2 linked regions of the Homo sapiens genome follow. The protein of the gene in region 2 purifies or fractionates together with the protein of the main gene of each other region. This does not show direct contact. Each region holds a gene or a part of one and is shown on either strand. Other genes may lie near its edges.

Evidence for each region.
Region 1: the proteins of MS4A6E (region 2) and POF1B purify together in Homo sapiens (affinity purification with mass spectrometry; one large-scale study listed by BioGRID and IntAct). This does not show direct contact.

Annotation. Positions count from the first base shown.
Region 1 is NC_000023.11:85,303,166-85,306,665, forward strand, and holds part of POF1B (protein POF1B), read right to left. Parts: intron 3,169-3,500; coding exon 3,016-3,168; intron 2,746-3,015; coding exon 2,626-2,745; intron 1,307-2,625; coding exon 1,178-1,306; intron 324-1,177; coding exon 241-323; intron 1-240. UniProt on the Homo sapiens protein: Plays a key role in the organization of epithelial monolayers by regulating the actin cytoskeleton. May be involved in ovary development.
Region 2 is NC_000011.10:60,337,255-60,339,547, forward strand, and holds part of MS4A6E (membrane-spanning 4-domains subfamily A member 6E), read left to right. Parts: intron 1-486; coding exon 487-693; intron 694-1,255; exon of another isoform or gene 1,256-1,446; intron 1,447-2,293. UniProt on the Homo sapiens protein: May be involved in signal transduction as a component of a multimeric receptor complex.

The DNA.
Region 1 (3,500 bases), on a different chromosome or scaffold from region 2:
CAATTATTTGTTTTTCACTTCCAAGGTAATTAATATATTGTAAATTCAGGAAAGATGTGCTTCAGGATTTTTTTGACCACAATAGTGATGTCTTTTTGTGAATATTCATTCTTCAGTAGAATAACTGGCCAGCAGAAAACACCAAACTCTGTCTAGCTTGTATATACCAATTAAACATGAAATAACTTGGATTATATGATCATAATTTTTATATTCAAATTTCATTTAAAAATACATTACTTTTTAGTGGTAATAGTAGTCCTTCCACCAGTGGAGGGTTGGTTATGAGAGGAATATATTTCTTGCCGCAACTTGGAGAGTTCCTTACAAATAAAAGATAATATAATCATTTGATGGAAAGTAGAAACATGAGATAATAAATATATTTAATCATTTAGAAGGGTTACTAACAATGATTATACCCCCTCCCTTTTACCCCTTTTTAGCCTTGACGTAATAATGTTCTAATCCCACTTGTTGAATATCACCTAGTGTTGCTTCACAGTACCTAATAAGTTATATTATATGCCGGTGCAGGAACCTGCAACTGATACAGGATATCTAAATTTGGAGGATAACTTGAGATTGAATGGGCGTGGTTCTCAGGATGAGGATGTGAAAGTTTTTGCTCTGAAAAGCCTGAAAAGTATATCCATAGAAGAAAAGTATTGAAACTTCAATATATAAGCAGATATAGTTTCTTAAGAGAGAGTTTATCAATGAATGTTACTACAAGCACCATTTGCTCCATAACAGCAATACAATATTACCCATAATTTTTGACAATTCCTTCAGTACCTATTGAATGCCAGGTCATGGGCTACATGCTACAGATACAAGGAGGAATATAACACATGCTTTAATGAAGCAGCTCATAATGTAGTAAGGAGGTCACAGTCTACTGGGAATTTCACTGCTAATGAAATATAAAATCAATGTCTTAAAAATATTAAATGTATAACAGCACTTATTTTTTGCTTCAATTGTAACTTTCATTTGAATTGTGTCTCCTGAAATATGTATATTCTACTTCCTCACTTGCACCTACATTTTATTTCATTAAATAAAGTGACTCTTGGATATGTGTCCTTTTCTAGTCCATGGGAAGTATTTATCCTACAGTACTACAGTACTAAGTTGTATTACTTTTCTCCATCCCCACCCCTTCCTTTTATACCTCTGACTGACGCTTTATGAGGGAATCCTTCTCTTCCAGCAAGCTTGTCAGTTCATGAAGCTTAAATTGGAAGTCACTACAACTTCCTTCTCTCTTTGAAACATCTTTATGGTACTGGTTTAATTGGGACTAAGGATTTAAAAAGAAATAAATATTATTATAATCTTCATATAGAAAATGTGTAACTGAGTTCCAGGGAGGTTAAGTGACACAAACTCACACAGTTATGAAATGAAAGTAAAATACCAATAGTCATAAACGTTCGAAGAATTTCATGAGTATGTAATATGAAATGAAATGCCAATTACAAATTTCTCCTTTTTTTAAGGTGTCTTTGCTATGTAGGACTAAACATTATCTACGTAACAGTCTTAGGCCACAAAATTTAAAGTAAAGCTAAGAAAACAGGCACTTTAGAGTCCTTGAAATAATAATTAAGGAAATAGCAATAACAAATTACTACTATTATATTCTGATTTTCAGTTCACAAAATATTCCTCCTGCATGAATTATCTCAGTTCTCACAGCAGTCCCATGAAATAAGCATTATTATAATCTTCATTTACAAAACAGATAATGGGCTCCAGAGAGGTTAAATGACACAGTCACGCAGTAACATAGCTGCAACTCCAAAACAGGTCTTCTGACTACAAATCTTGTCCATTTCCCTCTTTACCTCATATGTGTGTAGCTTAGGTAGAAGTGCTGTTAGTAATGTTGGAATGGAAAAGAAATCAGTGGAGGAAATCTGCTAGAAGTATTGGTAGGTTTGGAAAACAAATTATATTTTGTTTCATTTTGATTTTTGGTAAAAATTATACAGTGATGTTTGGAGAGACAAATTTGTGATTATTTTGTTTATTAAAATATTTAAGTATATTTTACTACCTTTAGGAATCAGTAAAATAAGGGTTAGATTAAGTAAATTCAACCTAGAATTACAAGTTAAGGCAATATATACTTATAAATATCACCTTAATTTTGATGTCAACTATAGGTACCTAAAACTTAACACTGTTTTCCTCCTCATGCTTGACAAAGTCCTTGCTATTCATCATCCCTCGAAATTAAGTGAGAATTTTTACAAATCTAACTATGGCTCTGTTGAGTAATTTCATATATTGCTTTTGCCTACATAAGCATGCTTTAGGCAAGATCATGAAGAGTCCTCCATCTATCCCAAAAAATAAATTAATAAAAACCAAAACCAAACCACTGAAATGAATATCTTCTTTTACTTTCCTAGAAGAAATTAAGCTAAATTAGAAAATCATTTAACAGTTATATTTTAGATACAGTAATGTATTTAAAACAAATGAATACATGACATATTTCTAAAACTCTACCTTCAGCTAATTTTTTCTGGTAGCTTTAAACTTGAAGCCATCATTATCTTGCTAGAAAGTTTGTGCTGACCTGTGTATTTATGCAATGTAGGATCAACATACCCTCAGTCTGCAGATCTCTCTATCTTTCTCCATTCTCAAGTTTTTTACCATCTCCGTGTAGTGGTTGCCAATCTCATCCATTTTAGCCTGCAACATTGGGCCTGTGCAAGTCTCAGAAACCTACAGAAGGCAAAATAACTATCTGTAATTGGATTGTTTTGAAGAAAATACATGTTATGTTACAAGGATTGTTATTAGATGAAAACCACATGATTAAATAAGACATTGAAATAATGAAAGTGATTTTCAGGAACTGCATTATAAAGCTCAAATGTCAGTGATTAAGATCTAACAGTATGTGAGGGAAAGCAGTCCATATGTTTTCTAAATGCTAGGATTACAATGATGTAACTAAGGTAATACTGTATATTTAAAAGGAAGTTTTAATACCTGCATTCTAAGGTTTTGATTCTCTTGCTCTAAATTACGTTTACAATATTCCAGTTCTTTTAGTCTGTATTCCATGTCTGATAGTGTATGTCGAAGAGAGAGATTGTTTTCTTCCAATGCCTGGCATTTTGAACTTGAGTCTTGAAGTCCTTGCTGTAAAGAAGACACAAGTACATAAGACAAATGCATTTTGTTTTTGGTGAGGGAGTGTTCTTTTTATTGATTCATTCAATTGAATCAAGTAAATATTTTCCTATGCCCAGTTTTCTTATACTCTGGGTCTTAGATGGTACATTAAGTCACCCATGTAAGATATTATAGTGTTGCCTCTAGTCTCACTCATCTATTTTGTGAGAGAGGGAATCATGACTAGATGAATTTATAATGTCTCAATTTAACAATCAGACTCTTGCTACTCTGTGACAATACTGTACCCTGCTTTCTAGTAGGCACAGAAACGACCATATGCCTGATTATTTACATGA
Region 2 (2,293 bases):
TTGCGGTTTTGCCATTGAAAGTAGTGGCAAAACCCAAAATTACTTTTGCACCATGCTAATACACCATCCAGATTTTCTGTGTGGTTGATGCTTGCACGAGGGGTTTCTGAGTTGGCCGAGAGAGAAACTGCATCTGGTACATTGCCACCTTTGCTTGTGGTCACACTCACAGTAATTTTCCAGGCAAGCCTCGTGGGCCCTGCTATCTGTCCCAGGGAAAGAATTTAGGAGAGTAACATTCTCTACCACACTACTGAGGTCCTGTTTGAGGGGAACCAGTTCATATGTTCATTCATTCAGCCAAGTTTTACGTTGCAGATTCTGAGTTTTTGGCTGGACACTGGAGAGGCCTACAACAAGAAATGATCCCTCCGGGACTTCCTGAGGGAGACAGATAAGGGAATAACTTGCAATGTAATGGCAAAAAGGGATAAGAGAGATTCGTGGCCCTTTGGGAATGATTCTTACCCAGCATGTCTCTTTCAGGTGCATAGCAGCCTGGCTGGAAGCATTCTGAGTGCTCTGTCTGCCCTGGTGGGTTTCATTCTCCTGTCTGTCAACCCGGCTGCATTAAATCCTGCCTCATTGCAGTGTAAGTTGGACGAAAAGGATATACCAACCAGACTTCTTCTTTCTTATGATTATCATTCACCTTACACCATGGACTGCCATAGAGCCAAAGCCAGTCTGGCTGTAAGTATTTTTTAGATGGGATGTTCTAATTTTATGAGGTTTCTGAAAGCCTTGATTTCTTATTATTCCATCCTTTGAAAATCTCTCTGTTAATTCTGGTTTGGGCATCTGGAGGAAGGCCAAGGTTATGTAAATCAAAGGGGGGCTGCATGGATGAGATTAAGGGGATTACATACTAACAGAGTGGAATTGAAATGTCAGATAAGGTTGATGATGAAAAACTAAAACTTACGGTTTGTAGAGTTTCTTAATTACTCAACTAATCTAATTTTGGAGGCATAAATTATGAGTTTGTCAAACTGAGAATGTTGGTACATAGAGTGGTGAATTCAGATTGGCAAACAGAGCAGAAAGACCCGGGTGATCAGAAAATGCTGACAAGGAAATGTGGTATGTGTGTGTGGTAGGGGGTCAGTTTGGTCTAAAAAGACATCAGACTAAAGATGAAGAAACAGAGAATAGGAAATATGGGGTTAGATGGTAAGGGTTTCTCCTAATGATTACAATAATGAATAATACTAATCAGGTGAAACGGTAACATTATTATTGCTTTTTGTTATAGCTGAAAGAAGTGTGATATCTTAAATCAGGAGATAAGAAATATAGGGAGATGGAGAGTGTAACTGAGAATTATCGCAGGAGAATTCTCTCTCTTTGGAAGAAGAAAAACAATGAAGTTTGGCTAACAGAAATAATGTGTCTGAAGTTGAAAAATTAAGGGGTATGTGCATGGCCAGCAACGCATTGAGAGGAAAACAGGCAACATAAAAGTAAAGAAGTTGCAGAATATTTATTGTCCTGCAATCATAAAAATGAGGTCAGCCAAGAACTCACCTGGACGATGGACAGATAGAAAGGTCTGGTCAAATTCATGCTTGTACAGCACCCATTATAAACTGAGCCTTGCTTCCAAGGTAATGGTATAATGAGGAAAAAGTGCATGCAAATGAGGCTGACAGTAATTGGTACAAATTCCACCTTGGGAAAAATTCTGGAGAGAAATTTGGGAGAAATTTGGTAGTGATAAAGTATAAATTCATGATGGGACGATTTTATATTGGAAATAAGAGAGATTCTGTTGAGCTTGCTTGCTGGAACAATTTCTAGGTAATGGACACAACATGTATCTTCTATTTAACTGTGTGTAAATACCACAAAACAAAAGTTCATGTGATCAAATTACCTCCCTTTATTATCAGATGACCAGTTCTGCACAAAGAATGTCTCAGGACAGAAATGGTAGAACTCATCCTTGTGAGTTGGTGTTGGTGATTAGCAACAGTTTACTACCTTCACTGTTTTTTTCCAAGTCTTAAAACACCAAAAACAGCAAAAATAAAAAATAAACAACAAAAATAAAAAACATCCAAACAGGTTCAGATACATAGACAGGGATGTCAATACTGAATTTTACAAAGGGCTTACACAGCCAAAACCTCCTTGATCCTCACAAATCTCTGAGAAATAAATGTTAGTATGCATGTTTGATACATGAGGAAACAGGAGCTAGAGAAAGAAAGAGACTTGTCCAGGCTTACACAGCTACTCAGCAGTAAAGATGAGACTATAATGGAGCTGCTGATTCTCAGTCCTGGGAGCT